Linked DNA regions of Homo sapiens. The protein of the gene in region 6 purifies or fractionates together with the protein of the main gene of each other region. This does not show direct contact. Each region holds a gene or a part of one and is shown on either strand. Other genes may lie near its edges.

Region 1 (3,500 bases), on a different chromosome or scaffold from region 6:
GGCATGCACCACCACACTTGGCTAATTTTGTATTTTTAGTAGAGATGGGGTTTCTGCATGTTGGTCAGGCTGGGATCGAACTCCCAACCTCAGGTGATCCTCCCGTCTCAGCCTCCCAAAGTACTGGGATTATAGGCGTGAGTCACCACGCCCAGCCCTAAGCATATGCTTCTTTAGTGATTCAAATGCCTGGGGGAAAAATATTCAGGGTGAAAAAATGAAGATAATACTTGCCTAACCTACTTTACATTATTTTAAAAGATTATTGTAAGATAAAATGCAATAGGGAATGTGAAAATGTTCTGAAAATTATTAAGTGCTGTTGAATAAGATGAAGTAGAAGTAGAAATAGAAACAGTGATTTTTGAGTGTCATTTCAATAGAGGGATAAAAGCCACTTTGGAAGGATTTGAAATAAGTGCTAATAAAGTCAGAGATGTGCATATCAGTTATTCATTGATTTGGCAGTGAAAGGACGAATAGAAATTAGATGATGGAGGAGACTTTTCTTAAATTTTTAATTGGAAAATTTTCTAACTTAAAAGTTGAAAGTACCATAAATACTAACATAGCCTCAATCTAGACTCTACAATTATTAACATTTTGCTACATTTGTTTTCTTTCTGTGTGTCTATAGAAAATTTGGGTTTTTTTTGTCAAACCATTTGAAAGCACATTGTAGGCATCATGACATTTTACCCCAAGTGCTTCAACATGCTTATTTAAATAATAAGGACCTTGTCCTGCATAACCACAATACCATGTTCACACTTAAGAAAATTAATAACTCTGGCCGGGCGCGGGAGCTCATGCCTATAATCCCAGCACTTTGGGAGGCTGAGGTGGGTGGATTGCCTGAGGTCAGGAGTTTGAGACCAGCCTGGCCAACATAGTGAAACCCCGTCTCTACTAAAAATAAAAAAAAAATTAGCTGGGCCTGGTGGCAGGCACCTGTAATCCCAGCTACTCTGGAGGCTGAGGCAGAAGAATCGCTTGAACCCAGGAGGCAGAGGTTGAAGTGCGCCGAGATTGTGCCATTGCACTTCAGCCTGAGCAACAAGAGTGAGACTCCGTCTCAAAAAAAAAAAGAAGAAAAATAATAACTCTACAATATTTTCTGATATCCATTCCATACTCAGATTTCCCCAGTTCTAAAAATCTTCATTAGGTAGAAGATTTTATTTCTTCAAGATCCAAAGTATATACATTGCATTTGCCTGATAGCTCAGTAGTCTCTTAATTTATAATACTCCCCCTGTCCTTTTGTCTCTCCACATTATTAACCTGGGAAGGGGCTAAGCCGTTGTCTTACCAAATGTCCTACATTCTAGATTTGTCTAGATTTCTCATGGTGTAACTTTCCTTCTTAATCATTTCAGGTAACCTTTATCAAAAGGATGGAGTTGGGAAAAGGAAAACTACTCAGGACTGGACTGAATGCGTTGCATCAAGCAGTGCATCCGATCCATGGCCTTGCCTGGACCGATGGGAATCAAGTTGTCCTAACTGATTTGCGGCTTCACAGTGGAGAGGTCAAGTTTGGGGACTCCAAAGTCATTGGACAGTTTGAATGTGTCTGTGGGTTGTCCTGGGCCCCACCTGTTGCAGATGATACACCTGTTCTACTCGCTGTCCAGCATGAGAAGCATGTCACTGTGTGGCAGCTGTGTCCCAGCCCTATGGAGTCAAGCAAATGGCTGACGTCTCAGACTTGTGAGATTAGAGGATCACTACCTATCCTTCCCCAGGGCTGTGTGTGGCACCCAAAATGTGCTATTCTGACTGTGTTGACTGCTCAGGATGTCTCCATTTTCCCTAATGTTCACTCTGATGATTCCCAGGTAAAGGCAGACATCAACACCCAGGGCCGCATTCACTGTGCATGTTGGACCCAGGATGGCCTGAGGCTGGTGGTGGCAGTAGGCAGCAGCCTGCATTCTTATATTTGGGACAGCGCTCAGAAGACTCTTCACAGGTGCTCCTCCTGCCTGGTGTTTGATGTGGACAGCCACGTCTGCTCCATCACAGCAACTGTGGACTCACAGGTTGCTATAGCTACTGAGCTTCCATTGGATAAGATCTGTGGCTTAAATGCATCTGAAACCTTTAATATCCCACCTAACAGTAAAGACATGACTCCGTATGCTTTACCAGTTATTGGTGAAGTACGCTCTATGGATAAAGAGGCAACTGATTCTGAAACAAATTCTGAAGTATCAGTTTCTTCTTCCTATTTAGAACCTCTGGATCTAACTCACATACATTTCAATCAACATAAGTCTGAGGGTAATTCTCTTATTTGTCTAAGAAAAAAGGACTACTTGACAGGAACTGGCCAAGATTCTTCACATTTGGTCCTTGTGACCTTTAAGAAGGCAGTTACCATGACGAGAAAAGTCACTATTCCAGGCATTCTGGTTCCTGATCTGATAGCATTTAATCTTAAAGCCCACGTAGTGGCAGTGGCTTCCAACACTTGTAATATAATTTTGATCTACTCTGTCATTCCATCTTCAGTCCCAAACATCCAGCAAATTCGATTAGAGAACACTGAAAGACCAAAAGGGATATGTTTCTTGACAGACCAACTATTACTAATTTTGGTAGGAAAACAAAAACTCACTGATACAACATTTCTTCCTTCTTCAAAGTCTGATCAGTATGCCATTAGCTTGATTGTTAGAGAAATAATGTTGGAAGAAGAACCTTCAATAACATCAGGTGAAAGCCAGACTACCTACTCTACTTTCAGTGCTCCGTTAAATAAAGCAAATAGAAAAAAGTTAATTGAAAGTCTTTCCCCAGATTTTTGTCACCAAAACAAAGGGCTGTTGCTGACAGTTAATACCAGTAGTCAGAATGGAAGGCCTGGAAGAACACTTATTAAAGAAATCCAGAGTCCTCTGTCTAGTATCTGTGATGGCTCCATAGCTCTAGATGCTGAGCCTGTTACCCAGCCAGCATCGCTGCCCAGACACAGCAGCACACCAGACCACACCAGCACACTGGAGCCTCCTCGTTTGCCTCAAAGAAAGAACTTACAAAGTGAAAAGGAAACTTATCAGCTGTCTAAGGAAGTGGAAATTTTATCTAGGAACCTGGTTGAAATGCAACGGTGTCTTTCTGAACTTACAAACCGTCTGCATAATGGGAAGAAATCCTCTTCAGTGTATCCACTCTCTCAAGATCTTCCTTATGTTCACATCATTTACCAGGTAAATTCTCCTTTGAGGAACTACCACTATACATAAAAGCTCCTGCAGCCGGTGAGTACTGCAAGAAACGTATTGATGAGGAAGATGGTGCTCTAACTGAGCTTCACTAAGCTGGGCATGTTATGTTACAGGCAAGTTGGTACACCTTTGCAGGTTGGTTGGTTTTTAGCCTGCCAACCAGATAGGCGCACATATCAGTCTGCATCATGATTTTATCAGGTGCATGACGTGGAAAAATAAATGTCTGCACTAATTCGGGCAATTTATATTTAGAAAAAAAATCAT
Region 2 (2,663 bases), on a different chromosome or scaffold from region 6:
CTCAGCCTCCCGAGTAGCTGGGATTACAGGCACACGCCACCACACCTGGCTAATTTTTGTATTTGTAGTAGAGATGGGTTTTGCCATGTTGGCCCAGGCTGGTCTCAGACTCCTGACCTCGGGTGATCTGCCCGCCTCAGCCTCCCAAAGCACTGGGATTATAGGTGTGAGCCATTGCACCCGGCCTCTTTCTTGGTTCTTAATACCAAATCGGAAGCAACCCTAGACCTTTCTTCCACTAATCTGTCACCAAGGCCTTCAGATTCCTGCATGTCCCCACCCTCAGCTTCGTTCTCCCGACTCACCCTGCCCCCCGCTCCTGCCAGGCCCACTATGTATAAATACATTAACCCTCTCCTTCTCTGTTCTTCTAGAGATCAGTGGTTTTGTGGTAATCACTGCCTCTGAGTACTTGATCTCACATCAGATGACAGGGCCCAAGGTGGATTGTGTAAGATACAGAACAAAAATGTAAAAACCAGAAAACAAACATAAAAGCATCACATTTCAAATAGGACATAAAGGTCCCTAGATTTTTAATCAAAATATTTTACAATTTTTGCTCTGCTAGCATGAGATCAACAAGAAAACCCAACAGGAATACATAAAAAACTTAACAAGTTGACTTTAATAAGTAAAAATTACAACATTCTTCTCCCAGCAATGAACAATTTCATTTTTTAAAAGTAAACGAGGCCTAAAACAAGAGGGCACAGGAACAAGTAGTCAGATGGATTTAGGTGAGCACTGTACACAAGCTTTGAGGAAGTGCAAAGGACTGACCTCTAGGCCAGAACAAGATGGAAAACTACCAGGCCCATCAGGCCTATAACCCAGACACCAGCATGGACAAAACTCAGTTATACTGAATTCAGAGACAAAATTCAGTGACACTCTTCTACCACTTATTTAGGGTTCTACAGCATTTCACTGAGCAGACTTAGTTTTTTGTTTTTGTTTTACAAACCTTTTAAACAGAGGGGATTTAAAAAATGCAAACTAGGACTACGATGTTAAGACAACCACTAGCAGACAGCTGCGGACAGTTACTGGGTCTGAAGGTGAGGCTTCCCAACTCAAACAGAGAAGTCATTGGGATAAACTCTGCCTCTTTCATCTTTCACCACCCATATCCTTAAAACAGGACAAGATGGGATGACCACACCAGGTAACATCACCGAGGTCTCAAAGTAGCAGCTAAAATGTGCCAGAACTCTTCACCCTGTCTAGGACCTATGTTCCACTCTCTCAGCAACAAAAGGATCTATAACATGTTTTCTCAATAAGGCTTTAGTTTCTCCTCCAGCTTCAAGTGGCCTTCACTACTCAGAAACCAATTCTACCTCTTTTGCTTTCTTCTTCTTCTTCTTCTTCTTGGTGGTATCACTGTCCTAGAAAGAAAGAGAATGAAAGCTCACAGATACCATCCACTAACAAAGCTATGACTCTCCCAGAAGGAAATCTGGTAAAGGTCCACAGTCAAGCAAGCCTTTTTCAGGACCTGTAAGGATATTTTGGGTTAAATGCTGCATGTGACACAAAGTTCTGTAAACCTTTCAGTGACACCCTAGTGGTCTACTTTTGGAAGTGGAAACATTCAGATCACCATCCTACACATCCTCTCCACCCACCATCAATAGAGCTCTAAGTATAAGTGGTAGAGGTCGGGTGCCTCTATCTGTCCATTCCACAGGGAGGGCAAAAGCACTCCAGGAACATGGGGAAGCACTAAAGGCACTCGGTGGCATCCCACCCCCAGGCCACAGCTCCTCCAAGAAGAGTAACAAAGCTGGTACCACCTGGGTAATTCTTTCCCCACGCAGGGACTAAGCCAGCCCAAGGAACCTGAACGTGTTTCCACACACCCCATCTCCAGGCTCGGCCCCGCTCTCCAGACCAGCTTTGGCCTTCTTGTCCTTCTTACTCTTCTTCTTTTCCTTCTTGATCAACTGAGGAGCTGCTGGAGGAGTCTCGTCACTTTCACTCTCACTCTCTCGCTTCCGCTGAGATGAAAGCAATTGGTTAAGTGTTAGATCTTGGGCAATAATGGACAAGAAAGGTTCAGTGAGTCAAAAGGTAGCAAGGCACCAAGAAAGATCCCAACTGAATCTAACAGGACGTTTTCTGACTACAAACCCGGACAGGGCCTTAGTTTACTGAGGATTTGAAGACAGTCTCATCCCCCAAATCCAAGAAGCCTTGAGGCAGGCACAAGAGAAGGAGCACAGCAGCAGCACGGGGCTTGGGGTGGAAAGGCCCGGAGGAGCTGTTTCTCTCATGACTGCAAGGACCTCTCACAGAAAGCAGGCAAAGCAGGAATTCACATCTGACAAGTCAGAAGCTCCTCCCACACAGCCTGTGCAGGATACTCAGTACCGCCCCCGGTTTCTGAGTGCAGACCTGTCATTCTGTGCTCTAATGCCAGCAGCTCCATGGGGTGGAGTTGCCAACCCATGCTTGACTGACTCTTTCAACACTGGGTGGTGCCAGGTTAAGATGCAATTCTGCTCTCTGCTGAATTTTGTATGGCCTCGAATGTCCAACAGCCATGGCCTCTGATTTCAACACATCTGTCCTACCATTTGACCCAGGGCGGGGGCCAGAATTGACACACACACCACCACCCATTCCATCACTGTGTTGCTGCCATAGCTGAGGTAGGA
Region 3 (3,500 bases), on a different chromosome or scaffold from region 6:
TCTAGCCACATTTTTTTCCAACGAAAATGGGGTCCTTATATTTTTTAGAAATATATTTATTAGAAAACTTTTAGTAGGGGTGTATTGCTGGAGATGAAATAAAATGTGAGAGTGGAAAGAAAGACTAGGAAAATAGCCTCCCAAATACAGAAAGCAGAACAATTCGGGCGGGGCGCGGTGGCTCACACCTATAATAATCCCAGCATTTTGGGAGGCCAAGGTAGGAGTATCACGAGGTCAGCAGATCGAGACCATCCTGGCTAACACAGTGAAACCCTGTCTCTACTGAAAATACAGAAAATTAACCGGGTGTGGTGGCAGGCGCCTGTAGTCCCAGCTAATTGGGAGTGCAGTGGCGCAGTCTCACAGCTCACTGCAGACTTGACCTCCTGTTCTCAAGCAATCCTCCCTCTTCAGTAGCTGGGACTACAGGCACATGCCACCATGCTGGCTAATTATTTTATTTTATTTTATTTCATTTATTTGAGACAGAGTCTCACTCTGTTGCCCTGGCTAGAGTGCAGTGGCATGATCTCGGCTCACTGCAACCTCTGCCTCCCGGGTTCAAGGGATTCCCCTGCCTTAGCCTTCCAAGTAGCTGGGATTACAGACGCCCGCCAACACGCCCTGGCCTCCCAAAGTGCTAGGATTACAGGCATGTGCCACCACGCCCAACCTGTAATTTTTTTTTTTTTTTAAGACGGAGTCTCACTCTGTCGCTAGGCTGAAGTGCATTGGCTCAGTCTTGGCTCACTGCAACCTCCGCCTCCTGGGTTGAAGTGATTCTCCTGCCTCAGCCTCCCGAGTAGCTGGGACTATAGGCACCTGCCACCACACCCGGCTAATTTTTGTATTTTTAGTAGAGACGGGGTTTCATCATGTTGGCCAAGATGGTCTCGATCTATTGACCTTGTGATCCACCCGCCTCGGCCTCCCAAAGTGCTGGGATTACAGGCGTGAGCCACCGCGCCTGGCATAACCTGTAATTTTAAAAAGAAGCTAAATAACAGGTAGTAAAAGATCTCCTTAAACCAACTACTTGGTCAAATTATATTAATCTTTTTATAGCTTTTAATTTATATAGCCAAGCTGTCTTCTGGAAGCTTGTATCAGTTTTTACTTCCACCAGTGATACAGTCAAGTATTCTACAAACACACTGGAAATTATGCTTCTTGTCCAACTGAGAAATGCGTATATTTAAATTAGTGCCACTTTAATATTTAGGAAATAATTTCAGGCTGGGCGCGGTGGCTCATGCCTGTAATCCCAGCACTTTGGGAAGATGAGGCGGGCGGATCACTTGAGGTCAGGAGTTTGAGACCAGCCTGTACAACATGGTGAAACCCCGTCTCTACTAAAAATACAAAATTAGCTGGGCATGGTGGCTCATGCCTGCAATAATCCCAGGCCGAGACAGGAGAATCTCTTGAACCCAGGAGGCGGAGGTTGTAGTGAGCCAAGATTGCGCCACTGCACTCCAGCCTGGGCGACAGAGTGATACTGTGTCTCAAAAAATAATAATAACAACTTCAGGAAAGTCTTTTTTTTTTTAATTTAATATAGATGTTCATGTTCTTGTAGGAAAAGCTGAATCTCAGTTGTATCCATAGTCCTGTTGTTAATGAACTTATGAGAGGAATTCGTTCACAAATGGATGGATTAATCCCTGGGGTAGAACCACGTGAAATGGCAGCTATGTGTCTTGGATTGGCTCACAGGTGAGAATTACTGGAAAATAAAGTCAACTTACTTTTATTTGATAAGCGCTTAACATAGATCTGTTCTAAGAATGTTACAAATGCTCATTTGAACCACATCAGAACCTTATGAAGAAGATGATAGTAATATCCTCATTTACAGATGAAACTGAAGCCCAAGGTCAATACAGCTGGTAAGTGGTAAAGCCAGGATTTGAACCCAGGCAGTCTGGCTCTATTGTCTGGATTCTTAAAACCTTAAAACCTCATCAAAGGAATTCTCTACTACTCTGATCTTGGATGCCCTGTTTCTTGGGCTTTCCCTCCTTTATCTCTGCTAAGTCATGCCACTCCTCCATCTACTTAGTATTCCCCCAAATTCTCTCATCTGCTATGGTCTTATGGGATAGGTGTGTATTTGTGTTTTCATTGCTTTACTCTGATTTTTAATAAGGCAAAGAGGACTAGGTGCAGTGGCTCACCCCTGTAATCCCAACTCTTTGGGAGACCAGGAGTTTGAGACTAGCCTGAGCAACATAGCAAGAAATATGTCTCTCTCTGTGTTTTTTTGTTTGTTTTGTTTTTGTTTTGTTTTTTTTGAGGCAGATTCTCACTCTGTCGCCCAGACTGGAGTGCAGTGGCGTGATCTCTGCTCACTGCAGCCCCTGCCTCCCAGGCTCAAGTGATTTTCTTGCCTCAGCCTCCGAGTAGCTAGGATTACAAGCGTGCACCACTACTGCCCAACTAATTTTTGTATTTTTAGTAGAGACGGGCTTTCACCATGTTGGCCTGGCTGATCTTGAACTCCTGACCTCAAATGATCCATCCGCCTTGGCCTTCCAAAGTGCTGGGATTATAGGCATGAGCCACCACACCCGGCATTTTTTTTTTTTTTTTTTTTTTTTTGAGTCAGGGTCTCACTCTGTTGCTCAGGCTGGGGTGCAGTGGTGCGATCTTGGCTCACTGCAACCTGGACATCCTGGACTCAAACAATGCCACCTCAGCCTCCCAAGTAGCTGGGACTGCAAGTGTGCGCCACCATCCCTGGCTGATTTTTTAACTTTTTGTAGAGACGGGGTTTTGCCATGCTGCCCAGGCTGGAACTCCCAGGCTCAAGTGATCCACTTGCCTTAGCCTCCCAAAGTGCCGCGACTGCAGGGGTGAGCCACCATGCCCAGTCTTCTCCCTATTTTTAATTGCATGTTAACCCTATCATATTTCATTAGAAGTCCCTTAGAATAGGCATTATTGCTATGTTGTGATACATCTGTTCATGAAAAGCTTAATACTTTGGAATTGCACTACAGTTAACAGGGTTGTGAAGAAAATAATGGTAGGTAGTTGCTCAAAACCTGTGCAACTTTGTAATCAGTACTGTCAAATAGTAATCCTAATAAAATTATTACCACAGTTCAAAAGACATTTTAAGCTAATATTAAAAGAAACACTACAGGCTGGGCACGGTGGCTCACGCCTGTAATCCCAACACTTTGGGAGGCCAAGGCAGGCAGATCACAAGGTCAGGAGATCGAGACCACGGTGAAACCTCGTCTCTACTAAAAATACAAAAAATTAGCCGGGCACAGTGGCGGGCGCCTGTAGTCCCAGCTACTTGGGAGGCTGAGGCAGGAGAATGGCGTGAACCCGGGAGGCAGAGCTTGCAGTGAGTGGAGATCGCTCCACTGCAGTCCAGCCTGGGTGACAGAGTGAGACTCCATCTCAAAAAAAAAAAAAAAAAAGGGAGAAAGAAACACTATAGGCCAGGCGCAGTGGCTCACGCCTGTAATACATCCCAGCACTTT
Region 4 (3,500 bases), on a different chromosome or scaffold from region 6:
CAGTATCTTAGTCTGCTATAACAGAACACTGTTTATAAAGAACAGAAATTGCTGAATGTGGTGGCTCACGCCTATAATCCCAGTACTTTGGTAGGCTGGGGCGGATGGTTCTCTTGAGCCCAGGAGTTTGAGACCAGCCTGGGCAACTTAGGGAGACTCTGTCTCTACAAAAAGTAAAAAAATTAGCTGGGCATGATGGCATGTGCCTGTAGAGAGGCTGAAGTGGGAGGATCACTTGATCCTGGGAGGTCGACTCTGCAGTGAGCCATGATCGCACCAGTGCACTCCAGCCTGGGGGACAGAGTGAGACCTTGTGTCAAAAAAAAAAAAAGAACATAAATGTATTTCTCATAGTTCTGGAGGCTGAGAAGTCCAAGGCTAGAAAGTCCAAGATCAGGGTGCCAGCATTTGGTGTCTGGTGAGGGTCTGGTCTCTACTTCCAATATGGTGCTTTGAATTCAGTGTTTTCATATGACAGAAGGTGGAAAGGCAAAAAAGGATAAACTCTGTTTTTTTATATGGCCATTAATGTATTAGTGAGGATGGTAGAGCCCTTGAGACCTAAACACCTCCCAAAAGGCTCCACTTCCAAACACTGTTGGCATTGGGGAATATGTTTCCAACACATGAATTTTGGGGGACACATTCAGACCATAACAATCAGCATATGGATAGTTATTTTATTTGTTTGTTTGTTTGTTTGTTTGTTGTAGAGATGTTGTCTTGCCATGTTGTCCAGGCTGGCCTTGAAGTCCTGGGCTCAGCCTCCCAAAGTGTTGGGATTATAGGCATGACCCACCATTCCTGGCTGCTAGCAATTTTAATTGTAGTAAATTTAGTCATAAAGGATGCAGTCACCCAATAAGTTATATAGAATTCCAGGGTGGAATTCTAAGGAAGTGGATTGAGGAAAAGTTTAGTGCCCCTCATGCTGTGTACTCCCCCGTGATAGTATTTGTCACTGTGTAGAGGAATTGCCCATTTACTTGGTCATATTTCTTGTAGAGAGGAGGCTCTTTAGGGAAAGGGGCCGTGCCTTGTCTACCTCTGTATCCCCAGCACCAAAAACAATGCCTAGCTCATGGTAGGTTCTCAATAAATATTTGTTGATTAAATGTATAATGATAGAGAGTGAGGGGCCGGAGAGGTAGGTGAACCAGAAAGTACTGGGTTGCAGAAGCTAAAGAAGGGAGGGATTGGGCAAGTGTTGGCGGCAACTGGGGCAGAAGCTAGATTGTGGTAGATTGCAGTACATGGATGGCTAACTGAAGAGGAGACATCAGGTTGAACCCTTTTTTTGGAGACAGGGCCTCACTCTGTCACTCAGGCTGGAGTGCAGTGGCATGATCCTGGCTCACTACCACCTCTGCCTCCCAGGCTCAAGCAGTCCTCCCACCTCAGCCTTCCAAGTAGCTGGAACCACAGGTGTGCACCCTTTTTGTATTTTTTGTTTAGAAGACAAACGGTTGTCTTTTGTTTAGAGACAGGATTTCGCCATGTTGCCCAGGCTGGTCTCAAACTCCTGAGCTCAAGTCATCTACCCGCCTCAGCCTCCCAAAGTGCTGGGTTTACAGGCGTGAGCCATCATGCCCAGCTGGTTGAACCCTTTTAAAGGGAAGCTTGTGTGAGGTAGGGAGAGAGGATTGTTGATAAGGGAGATGGAGATGTAGTGGCTAAAAGTTGAGCATATTGAAATAATTCTTATGGAAAATAGCCAGAAGAGAGGGAGAGGCTGAAGATACAGGAAAGGGACTAGTAGTGATGGAGCTTCCTGAGGAGACCAGGGGAGATGGAAACCGGAGCCCAGCTAGAGACACTAACCTTCAACAAATTCCTTTGTGATGCGAGGGTAAATGTCAAGGAAAAGTTCAAATGGAGGTAAGTTTGAAGAGGAGAAGATAAGGAGAAAGTTGAGGGAGTTCTCAAGATCAGGAAAGAGAATATTCCTTTTCCTGAGGGTGGGGTAGGGCAGTTGGTGGAGCAGGAATCTTGAAGAGAGGAGATTTAAATAGCTTTTGCAAAAGTGGGGGGCTAGGGAAAGAAATTTGGAAGGATTGCTGGCAGTGATAAGAATCATTTTGAGGCTGGAACCTGTGATTTTTGTAGTCATATCATTTTGCACAGTTTTATGATAACATTTTATGATAACATTGTCAGTTTAAAAGAAGAAAAAAATGGGCTGGGCATGGTGGTTCACGCCTGTAATCCCAGTAGTTTGGGAGGCCAAGGCGGAAGGATCACTTGAGACCAGGCGTTCAAGACCAGCCTGGGCAACAAAATGAGACCTCCCCCAGCTCTACAAAACAACACAAAAAAATAAGCTGGGTGTGGTGGCACTTGCCTGTAATCGCAGCTACTTGGGAGGTTGAGGTGGGAGACTGAGGCAGGTGGATGGTTTGAGCCCAGGTGGAGCCTGCAGTGACCCATAATGGCACCACTGCACTCAGCTTGAGTGACAAAGCAAGACCCTGCCTCAAAAAAAGAAAAAGAAAAAGTACAAAGACCTCAGTCTTTAGATAAGGGAATAGACTTCTTTTTTTGCGGGGGGGACGGAGTCTTGCTCTGTCGCCCAGGCTGGAGTGCAGTGGCGCCATCTCGGCTCACTGCAAGCTCTGCCTCCAGGGTTCATGCCATTCTCCTGCCTCAGCCTCCCGAGGAGCTGGGACTGGAGGCGCATGACACTACGCCTGGCTAATTTTTTTTTTTTTTTTTTTTTTTTTTTTTTGAGATGGAGTCTTGCTCTTTCACCCAGGCTGGAGCGCAGTGGCGCGATCTCGGCTCACTGCAACCTCCACCTCCCAGGTTCACGCCATTCTCCTGCCTCAGCCTCCCGAGTAACTGGTACTACAGGCGCCTACCACCACACCTGGCCAATTTTTTGTATTTTTAGTAGAGACGGGGTTTCACCGTGTTAGCCAGGATGGTCTCCATCTCCTGACCTTGTGATTCGCCCGCCTCGGCCTCCCAAAGTGGTGGGATTACAGGCGTGAGCCAGCGCGCCCGGCCTTTTTTTTTTTTTTTTGAGACCAAGTTTTGCTCTTGTTGCCCAGGCTGGAGCGCAGTGGCGCAATCTCAACTCACTGCAACCTCCGCCTCCCAGGTTTAAGCGATTCTCCTGCCTCAGCCTTCCTGAGTAGCTGGGATTACAGGCATATGCCACCACGCCCGGCTAATTTTGTATTTTTAGTAGAGACGGGGTTTCTCCATGTTGGTCAGGCTGGTCTTGAACTCTCGACCTCAGATGATCGCCTGCCTCGGCCTCCCAAAGTGTTGGGATTACAGGCGTCAGGCACCGCGCCCGGCCATTTTTTGTATTTTTAGTAGAGACGGGTTTCACCGTGTTAGCCAGGATGTTCTTGATCTCCTTACCTCATGATCCACCCGCCTCGGCCCAAAGTGCTGGGATTACAGGCGTGAGCCACTAGGCCCAGCCGGGAATAGACTTCTTACTTGAGAAACTGAGTTTTGCAGTGAGGTCATTACTTTGGGATTCAGATTTG
Region 5 (2,834 bases), on a different chromosome or scaffold from region 6:
CGTGCTGTTGCACTCCAGCCTGGGCAACGAGAGTGAAAATCCATCTCAAAAAAAAAAAAAAGAAGAAGAAAAAGAAGAGAAGAACACTTTGCAGAGCCTGTATATTCATGGGAGGCCCTTTGGTGGAACGGGAAGAGGGCTGGAGTTTTGAGGCTTGGGTTTCCAGTCGTGACCGCCCCTTGTTGGCTGAGTGAACCTCAGCGGCTCTCCTACCCCTGCAAGCTCTAGTTCCCTCATCTGTAATGTAGGGATAACAATGGCACTGATTCACAAGGTGGTTAATGGAGCAAGTGCAGTGATGTTAGTGGAGCATCATCCTTTGTATATTGTTGAGAAGTATTTGTCATGACAATTAAAATGAGATATATAGTCAGTAAAGTAAAAGCTTTTATTTTATATTTTTTATTTCTAGTATTAGAGTTAGAGGCAGTATCCACTTTCCCAAATTTATTACTCTTTATTTCTTAAGTTGTGTGTCACTACCCAGAGAGAACTCCCCTTCATGGAGAAACAGAGTGGTGTACTAGTTCTTTGACTGAACTTTGCAGCAGCTCAGACTGAATCCTTTACCACTGGTAGTCAAGGTTTCAAAATATATGGTGGACATTATCTACAACTGTCTTGGGTATAAATGCAAATTATGTTGCAGCCGTCATATTCCATAGCTATGCTTTTAAAAATGCCTCAGACTGATAAAAGATTAGCCAGGGGTTATAATGCTTTGGTGAATCATTAACTGACTCTAGTGGATCTCACCTTGGTTTTCCTCTTTACCCTAAACCCCTCCCTTTCTCTAAGCGCTCTGGAAGTTCTGGCACTGAAACCCAGGGCTAAGAGAAAGCTACCCATCAACGATGGTGACTGCCCTTGTCCCACTCACCGCACTGTGCCTCCCGCTCACCCTTGGACACTGCAGTGGTGCTTCTGTGGCCTGATTACACATGTGAAGAGGCAGCAGGGGTTGTGGGGGGTGGGGGGCAATCCCTGCACAATCTCATTATTGTGCTGAGTACTTTGAGAAATAGCATTTCAGGTACATGCAGGCACCCAGATTAAAATACCATCTTTGTTCGGTATTTCCCATTGTACCATCAGCTCCACTGAAATGAAGCCTCATTTTCCTGATATTATGGGATGGACTATACTTTTACAAATGAATTTATCTTGTAAACTCACCGTCATCCAGTTTGTCTCAAAGCCACTCAATGTTTTGTATGTTCATTTAATCTTTGGAGTCAGGGAAACATAGAAACCATGTCAGCATGTTTACCACTTTCACTCACTGTCACCTTTCTTCAGTTGTCACATCAGATTTCCCCTTAAGAATAGTAGTCATCTTTGGAGAATGCCAGTTTGTGTCATGTTGGTTCTTTTAGAAACAAAAAACAACTAAATGCATCCAAGTTAATAATGGAAAAGTTTATTTACTCGATACAATGTAATATTATAAATCTAGCAGGTAATTTAGAGGAAAAGCGTCTTCGGCTGGTCATGGTGGCTCACGCCTGTAATCCCAGCACTTTGGGAGGCCGAGGTAGGTGGATCACGAGGTCAGGAGATCAAGACCATCTCGGCCAACATGGTGAAACCTCATCTCTACTAAAAATACAAAAAAAATTAGCTGGGCCTGGTGACTCATGCCTGTAATCCCAGCACTTTGGGAGGCCGAGGCTGGCAGATCACGAGGTCAGGAGATGAAGACCATCCTGGCCAACATGGTGAAACCCTGTCTCTACTAAAAATACAAAAAAATTAGCTGGGCATGGTGGTACGCGCCTGTAGTCCAAGCTACTCGGGATGCTGAGGCAGGAGAATCACTTGAACCTGGGAGGCGGAGGTTGCAGTGAGCCGAGATCACACCACTGCACTCCAGCCTGGCGACACAGTGAGACTCTGTCTCAAAAAAAAAAAATCTTCTGAAATAATATGAAATGGTTTTCTCATAAAAAGAAAAAGCACTCCATGCTGCTGATATTGCTTTTCCTCCTTGTACATTTTAAGATTATGAACATTTATATAGGTTTAAAAAATAAAACAATAGGCAGTGAAAAGGCTCCGTCACGCCATCATCCTGTGTCATCCCCCATATTTCCAGTTCCCACCTTATCTCCTTTACAGAAGTTACTGTTTTCTGTGACTTTGGAGAGTTTATTAAGAAGTATACAAGCAAATAGAAATATCTGTTTTGATATCTTTCCTGTTATTTTCCCTTTTTATATATATGTAGCATATACATATGGTGAGCCTTTTGTGTTGCTAAGCAGTAAGTCTGGATTGGCCCATGGAGAGCTTCATTCATTGTACAGCTGTAGGCTATTCCGTTGTATGGATATGTCATAACTTATTTCACCAGTCAACCAGTCTTATAACAAGGACATTTGGCTGTTTCCCATTTTTAGGTATTAAAAAACGATGTCATAGTAAATAACCTCAGACCTATGTCATACATGACATAGGTTTACTACATGTGTTTAATTTTCAGACATGGGGCTTTCTGGGTCCAGGGTATATACATTTTCCATTTTGAAAGTTATTCAGACATGGGGCTTGCTGGGTCCAGGGTATATACATTTTCCATTTTGAAAGTTATTGCCAAGTTCTCCTTCATGGGGATTGTAGCTATTTAATCTCCCTGCATCAGTATATGAAAGTGCCTTTTCTCCTGCAGTCTTGTTAACAGAATAATATCAAATGTTTGGGTATTTGCCAATAAAAAATATATCTGACATATGACTTTAATTTGTATGTCTCTTATTTGACTGGAGTTGAACATCTAATATATTTAAGAGTTACTTATATTTCCTTTTTTGAAAATTGTCTGCTTGTATCTTCTG
Region 6 (3,500 bases):
CCCTGACCTCAAGTGATTTGCCTGCTTCAGCCTCCCAAAGTGCTGGTATTACAGGTGGGAGCCACTACGCCCAGCCTGTTGTTTTTTTTTTTTCTTAATAGCTTTATTGAGATAGAATTCACGTACTACATAATTCACCCATTTAAAGTATACAGCTCAGTGTTTTCTAGTATATTCACAGACTTGTGCAGCCATTTCCACAGTCAATTTTAGAACATTGTCGTCACCCCAAAAAGAAACCCCATGCCTCTTACCTGTCACCGCTAATCCTTCCATACCTCCCATCTTCAGTTCTAGGCAGCCACTAATCTTTCTCTGTATATGGATTTGCCTATTGTGGCTACTTCATATAGATGGAATCATACCATATGTGTCTTTCGTGTGTGGCTTCTTTCAGTCAGTATAATGTTTTCAAAGTTCATCCACGTTGTAGCATGTATCAGAACTCCATTCCTGGCCGGGCGCGGTGGCTCACGCCTATAACCCCAACGCTTTGGGGTGCCAAGGCAGGTGGATCACCTGAGGTCAGGAGTTCAAGACCAGCCTGGCCAACATGGTGAAACCCCATCTCTACTAAAAAATACAAAAAAATATTAGCCAGGTGTGGTGGCGGACACCTGTAATCCCAGCTACTCGGGAGGCTGAGGCAGAAGAATCACTTGAACCCAGGAAGCAGAGGTTGTAGTGAGCCAAGATTGCGCCATTGCACTCCAGCCTAGGTGACAGAGTGAGACTATGTCTCAAAAAAAAAAAAAAAAGAAAAGAAAAAAGAACTCCATTCCTTTTTATGACTGAATAATATTCCTTTGCACAAATAGACCCTGTTTTATTTTGCCATTCATCAGCTGATGGACATGTGGGTTGTTTCTATCTTTTGGCTGTTGTGAATAGTGCTGCCGTGAACACTCGTGTCCATGTTTTGTGTGGACCTCTGGGGGGGTCCTGAATTGTCCCGGGTGGTGTTTACTCACCTCCCTCCCCCATGTGAGAAGGGGTGGTAGCTGGCTCCTCTCTGTGGAGAACTGTCAACATGGGAAGCCTCGGTATATTCTTGTTGAATGAGCTCAGCACTTTAGAGTATCACTTAGCAAACCACAGACATTGAGTCCCGAGGTGAACAAGAGAGAACAGGCCGTGCCCTTCATGGGACTCATGTCCACTGGAGCAGAGAATATTGATCCATCCATCTCCCTCGGGAATGTGAGATCACACAGGGAGATCGGGCTCCCAGGGAGGCCTTTCATCTGTCTGAATGTCTAGAGGTCCTAGAACTAGCCTGGCAGGGCTGTTGGACAGAAAGGGCCTCCCCTAGGGGGCAGCACTTGATCTAATTCAGTGAGAGGGCAGGGAGAGCAGTCTGGACTCAGGGGCCAGCATGTGCAAGGCCTGGTGGTTGAGAACTGGGGCCGCCTGGTACAAGGGATGCTGGGAAATTAGCAGGGGCCAGAGCATGTCCAGCTCCATGCCTGCTCCTCATTGGTGTCTGTCCTTATGGAGCTCACAGTTATTAGAAATGGGGAGGACTTGTCTGGGCACGGTGGTTCACACCTGTAATCCCAGCACTTTGGGAGGCCTTGGTGGGCAGATCACTTGAGGTCAGGAGTTCGAGACCAGCCTGGCCAACCCCAGTAGAGATGGGCGAAACCCCATCTCTATTAAAAATACAAAAAAAATTAGCCAAGTGTGGTGGTGTGCGCCTGTAGTCCCAGCTACTCAGGAGGCTGAGGCGGGAGAATCGGTTAAACCCAGGAGGCGGAGGTTGCAATGAGCTGAGATCGGGCCACTGCACTCCAACCTGGGCGACAGAGCAGACTCCGTCTCAAAAAATAAGAAAAAAAAAAAAGAAATGGGGAGGACTTAGCCGGGCACAGTGGCTCACGCCCATAATCCCAGCACTCTGGGAGGCCAAGGCTGGTGTATCACTTGAGGCCAGGAGTTTGAGACCAGCCTGGCCAACATGGCAAAACCCCATCTCTACTAAAAATACAAAAATTAGCCGGGTGTGTTGATGCGCGCCTGTAATCCCAGCTAGTCAGGAGGCTGAGGCAGAGAATTTCTTGAACCCAGGAGGCGGAGGTTGCAGTGAGCCGAGATTGGGCCACTGCACTCCAGCCTGGGTGACAGAGCGAGACTTCATCTCAAAAAAAAAAAAAGAAACAGGGAGGATTTCATTCATTCACCAAATAACCAAATATGTGCTGGACCCTGAGGACCAAGCTGTCGATGAGACAGACAGTCCTTGTCTTCCTGGGGCTCAACCAACCAGCCATTAGGCAGTGACAGGCAAGAGGGGTGGGGGTGACTGGTGCCTGTCCCATCGCCTGCCTGTGAGGGGAAGGAGTGGAAAGGACCATCTCATGGGAGGGACAGAGGAGGGGTTGGTGAAAGCTGGGACCACACTAGTCCTCTGACACATCTTCTTGCACCCCCAGACAGCCACAACCAAAGTCCCGGAGATCCGTGATGTAACAAGGATTGAGCGAATCGGTGAGTGAGTTGGGTCAGGAATAGGACCTAAGCCCTGCCTGCCATGTGCCCTGACAGAGCAAACCTATTGAGGACCCCTAAGATGGAGAGGGAGGTGGCCTGCACACCAACTGTGCCCCCACTACCATTCCCCCACTCGCCCTATCTAATGGGGGAGGAGGATCCTCAGTTCCAGAGTTGGGTCAGATGATGCACTGGGGACCAGGCTGCTATCCTGGCTATCCTGGTGGGGTTCCCGGGTATGTTTGCCTGGAAGTCATAGATATTTACTGGGTGCTTTACTGGGTTTGGCCTCGTATACCCAGTACACACTGTGGGGTGAGTTCCCTGAGGGCAGGGACGAGGTCGTGTCATTCCTAGCTGTGTCCCTAGCACAGGACCTAACAGAGCAGATGATCAAGAGATAACCATTGAATGCACGAGTTTGCGTCCTGTGGAGCCCTCGCAGTAGCCGCATGAGGTGCATATTGTAACTGTTAGCTGAGGGAACTGATTTTCAGGACAGCTAAATCACTGGCCCCGGCTCACACAGAGCAGGAAGTTGAGACGCAGTGAGGCCAGCAGGGTGCGCTCTCACAAAGAGCTTTACCGGCAGGGAAGTGACCGCATTCATTCATGCAGCAGGCTCACTGATTCAGGGCATCCGAGAAAGGCAGTAAGGGCTTCTGGCTGTGAAGATGGGTTTTAGAAGCCCAGTGCTGGATTCCTGGAGCTTAGCTCTGCCACTTTCCCACCATGTGGCCAGGGACTAGTTCCTCTCTGTGCCTCAGTTTCCTTATCTGCAAGACGAAGCTAAGATAGTTTACCTCATCAGTTAATGTAAGATTCAGTAAGGTAGTTCATATAAAGCATTTTGGGTCTGTGTGCCAACACTGTTTCATCTATTAAAAGTGCTGGGGCACTGGGTGCAGTGGCTCATGCCTGTAATTCCAGCACTTTGGAAGGCCAAGGTGGGCGGATCACCTGAGGTCAGGAATTTGAGACCAGCCTGGCCAACATGGTGAAACCTCGTC
Region 7 (3,500 bases), on a different chromosome or scaffold from region 6:
ATATCTGTAGGGAATTGTAGTTTCCCGGTTGAGATAAGAGCTCGATTGAAGGCAGTGGCAATGGTATTAAAAAGGAGGGGATTTGAGAAATACTTAGCAGAAATATTTGGCAGAACTTGAAAGATGGAGGTGTTCACAAAAACTCTCAGATTTTTGCCAGTGTGGACTGGTGGTCAGCAATGTGTTAGGCAATGCTGAGATCAGCAGTGCTTCAGATGTGTTGAATTTGAGATACCCATGAGGCATCAGATGCAATTATGTTGATGTACAGTGAAAAGTTCAGGATATGGATGTAGACACTGGTTAGAGCTTGAGAGAGAGAGAGATTTGAAATTGGAATTATCAGTATTTAGGTAGAAGTTGAAGCTATAGGAGTAGAATATATTACCCAGGAAAGGGTAAATTAGGGAAGGAGCTCCTAACATAGGGTTTGTGGCCTTCCCAAAGTTTCCATGGTAGAACTATATTTTATTATAATTGGCTTCTTTTATAAACATTTAAAAACATTCTAAGAAGGGATTCATAATTTCCTAAACTGTATTAGTTTGTAGGGCTGCCATAATAAAGTACCACAGTCTGTGTGGCTTAAACAACAGAAATTAGTTTTCTCACAATTCTAGAGGATAGAGGTAGATCTAAGTGTCAGCAGAGTTGGTTTCTTCTGAGGTCTGTCTCTGTGTGTAGATGGCCATCTCCTCCTCTGTCTTCACATGGCCGTCCCTCTGTACAAGTCCAAGTCTGAATTTTCTCTTTTTGTTGTTGTTGTTGTTGTTGTTGTTTTTGAGACTGAGACTTGCTCTGTCACCCAGGCTGGAGTGCAGTAGCACGATCTCAGCTCGTTGCAGCCTCCGCCTGCCGGGTTCAAGCAATTCTCCTGCCTCGGCCTCCAGAGTAGCTAGGACTACAGGTGCATACGGCCACGCCCGGCTAATTTTTTGTATTTTGGGTAGAGTTGGGGTTTCACCATGTTGGCCAGGATGGTCTTGATCTCCTGACCTCGTAATCTGCCCGCCTCTGCCTCCCAAAGTGTTGGGCTTACAGGTGTGAGCCACCGCGCGCCCTGCCTGAATTTTCTCTTAAAAACATCACTCATACTGGATTAGGACCCAATCTAATGATTTCATTTTAACTTAATTACTTCTTCAAAGATTCTGGTTTCACCGGGCATGGTAGCTCACGTCTATAATCCTAGCACTTTGGGAGGGCAAGGCGAGTGGATCACCTGAGGTGTGGAGTTTGAGACCAGCCTGGCCAACATGGTGAAACCCCATGTCTACTAAAAATATAAAACCTAGCCGGGCTTGGTGGCCAGCAGATGTAATCCCAGCTACTCAGGAGGCTGAGGCAGAAGAATCACTTGAACCCCGGAGGTGGAGGTTGCAATGAGCTGAGATTGTGCCATTGCACCCCAGCCTGGGCGACAGGAGTGAAACTCTGTCTCAAAACATAAAAATAAATAAATAAATAAAGAATAAAGACTCTGGTTTCAAGTACAGTCACATTCTGAGGTACTAGGGGTTAGGATTTTGACATATGAATTTTAGGGCGACACAATTCAGTCCACAACACTGTCATAAGGGTCCATAACACAGAACAGGTTAAGGGCTCCTGGCGCAGGGCAAAAGATAAATCCTTGAGGAACAGAAGTTGAAATTTTTGGTTAACTATACAATTAATTCATTTAATTAGGATATCTCTTTACCCAGCATTCTGGTTAATAAAAGTATTAAATTTTACCAACTCATATTCATTGCTATACTTACGATTTGTACTCAAGTTTAGGTGCTGTGGTGAAAACAAATACAGTGTTCTCCTTTTAAGGACCCCCTAGTTTCTGACAAAATAATTTGGACCAGAGAATTTCACAGGGAAGGGTTAATTATCTTGAGAAATGTAACAAATACGTAAACTTTCTTTTATATTAGAAATTAAAATATGTCTCTGTTTTATTTGAATAAAAATGAGAGGCTGGGCGCGGTGGCTAACACCTATAATCCCAGCACTTTGAGAGGCCAAGGCGGGTGGATCACGAGGTCAGGAGTTTGAGACCAGCCTGGCCAATATGGTGAAACCCCATCTCTACTAAAAATACAAAAATTAGCTGGGCATGGTGGTGCGCGTCTGTAGTCCCAGCTGCTCAGGAGGCTGAGGCAGGAAAATCTGTTGAACCTGGGAGGTAGAGGTTGCAGTGAGCCGAGATCACGCCACTGCACTCCAGCCTGGGCAGCAATACAGCAAGACTCCGTGTCAAAAAAAAAAAAAAAAAAAGAGATCATTCTGCAAAGCTACTGTCTCTTAACTGATACTTGCAAAGTAATGGGTTTGATTTTAAAAATTTTAAGTTTTTGAAATATTTTAAACATATTAAAAATATGTAAGTTTGTATGTGATATTACTGTAATCACCTGTAAGTTTGTATGTAATACAATACTGCATTCACCAGTGAGATTAAATAGATGTCATATTTTGCCATATTAATACCTCAGATATTTTAAGAATAAAAATGTTATTGATACAGATTTCCTCTCTCTCCCTTCTTCAGTTCATGTAACCACTGAACTGAAGTTGGTATGTAACATTCCCAGACCCCATGCATATTTTCTTTTTTTTTTTTGAGACGTGTGTGTGTGTGTATATGTGTATATATGTATGTGTATACATATGGTTTTTTGATAACTAGCTTTTAAAACTAAGCATTCTTTTAGATTTATTGATGCTGACATATGTAGATCTAAAGTGTTCATTTGAACTGCTGTACAGGATTCCATTGTGTGAATATATTATTGCTTATCTATTTCCCTGCTGAGAGACCATTAGATTATTTCTGCCTTTTCCTATGGCAAGCAGTGTGTCAATTATAATAGCAGCTTACACTTAGCATGTGTATTTTCTAAGACTTCATATACATGAAAGCACTTAACATGTTTAATCATTAGAGTATCCTGTGAGATAAGAGCTATTATGTACATTTTACATATTAGGAAACTGAAGCAGAGAGGTTAATAAATTGCTCAGTTCTTGTAGCTGTTGAACATTCTTTTGCATGTCTCCTTGCAACCTGTATGAGAGAGTGTCTCCAGAATAAGTAAGTGTAATTCTATGTATGCACAATTTCAACTTTAATAGATATGACTAAATTGCCCATAGTGGTTGTCCCACTTTGGACAATAAATTATAGAATCACCCTAGTTGATGGTGGAGGGAGGTTGCTGGTATATTTATTAGCCTGGTTCATTCACCTCAGGGTAATCCATGGCTAACTGCATCCCCTCTACTAAAAGTCACAGCTCCTGTCAGGTAGCCCTCCCCATACAACTTTCTCTCCAGATTCTGATAACAGTTATTTCTTCTTGTTTCTTCAGTTTGAAGAATGGCAATGGATCCATTATTATTAGTTATCATTATAGTACTGGGGTACTGTACTGTCCCTTCTGGTTGTCCTGTATTTCACCTATATCTTTGCAAATAATTCCCTTTAATAAGTAAACTGAAATTACCCA

Evidence for each region.
Region 1: the proteins of RUVBL2 (region 6) and WDCP purify together in Homo sapiens (affinity purification with mass spectrometry; 7 studies listed by BioGRID and IntAct, with this or other methods). This does not show direct contact.
Region 2: the proteins of RUVBL2 (region 6) and DKC1 purify together in Homo sapiens (affinity purification with mass spectrometry; 7 studies listed by BioGRID and IntAct, with this or other methods). This does not show direct contact.
Region 3: the proteins of RUVBL2 (region 6) and NOP58 purify together in Homo sapiens (affinity purification with mass spectrometry; 5 studies listed by BioGRID and IntAct, with this or other methods). This does not show direct contact.
Region 4: the proteins of RUVBL2 (region 6) and HDAC1 purify together in Homo sapiens (affinity purification with western blotting; 4 studies listed by BioGRID, with this or other methods). This does not show direct contact.
Region 5: the proteins of RUVBL2 (region 6) and SHQ1 purify together in Homo sapiens (affinity purification with mass spectrometry; 4 studies listed by BioGRID and IntAct, with this or other methods). This does not show direct contact.
Region 7: the proteins of RUVBL2 (region 6) and ACTL6A purify together in Homo sapiens (affinity purification with mass spectrometry; 11 studies listed by BioGRID and IntAct, with this or other methods). This does not show direct contact.

The regions. Positions count from the first base shown.
Region 1 is NC_000002.12:24,037,392-24,040,891, reverse strand, and holds part of WDCP (WD repeat and coiled-coil-containing protein), read left to right. Parts: intron 1-1,379; 5' UTR 1,380-1,397; coding exon 1,398-3,215; intron 3,216-3,500.
Region 2 is NC_000023.11:154,775,527-154,778,189, reverse strand, and holds the end of DKC1 (H/ACA ribonucleoprotein complex subunit DKC1), read right to left. Parts: intron 2,004-2,663; coding exon 1,866-2,003; intron 1,392-1,865; coding exon 1,323-1,391; 3' UTR 501-1,322; downstream 1-500.
Region 3 is NC_000002.12:202,282,763-202,286,262, forward strand, and holds part of NOP58 (nucleolar protein 58), read left to right. Parts: intron 1-1,582; coding exon 1,583-1,719; intron 1,720-3,500. UniProt on the Homo sapiens protein: Required for the biogenesis of box C/D snoRNAs such as U3, U8 and U14 snoRNAs. Part of the small subunit (SSU) processome, first precursor of the small eukaryotic ribosomal subunit.
Region 4 is NC_000001.11:32,295,083-32,298,582, forward strand, and holds part of HDAC1 (histone deacetylase 1), read left to right. Parts: intron 1-3,500. UniProt on the Homo sapiens protein: Histone deacetylase that catalyzes the deacetylation of lysine residues on the N-terminal part of the core histones (H2A, H2B, H3 and H4).
Region 5 is NC_000003.12:72,751,612-72,754,445, reverse strand, and holds part of SHQ1 (protein SHQ1 homolog), read left to right. Parts: intron 1-2,834. UniProt on the Homo sapiens protein: Required for the quantitative accumulation of H/ACA ribonucleoproteins (RNPs), including telomerase, probably through the stabilization of DKC1, from the time of its synthesis until its association with NOP10, NHP2, and NAF1 at the nascent H/ACA RNA.
Region 6 is NC_000019.10:48,996,887-49,000,386, forward strand, and holds part of RUVBL2 (ruvB-like 2), read left to right. Parts: intron 1-2,432; coding exon 2,433-2,487; intron 2,488-3,500. UniProt on the Homo sapiens protein: Possesses single-stranded DNA-stimulated ATPase and ATP-dependent DNA helicase (5' to 3') activity; hexamerization is thought to be critical for ATP hydrolysis and adjacent subunits in the ring-like structure contribute to the ATPase activity.
Region 7 is NC_000003.12:179,565,926-179,569,425, forward strand, and holds part of ACTL6A (actin-like protein 6A), read left to right. Parts: intron 1-3,500.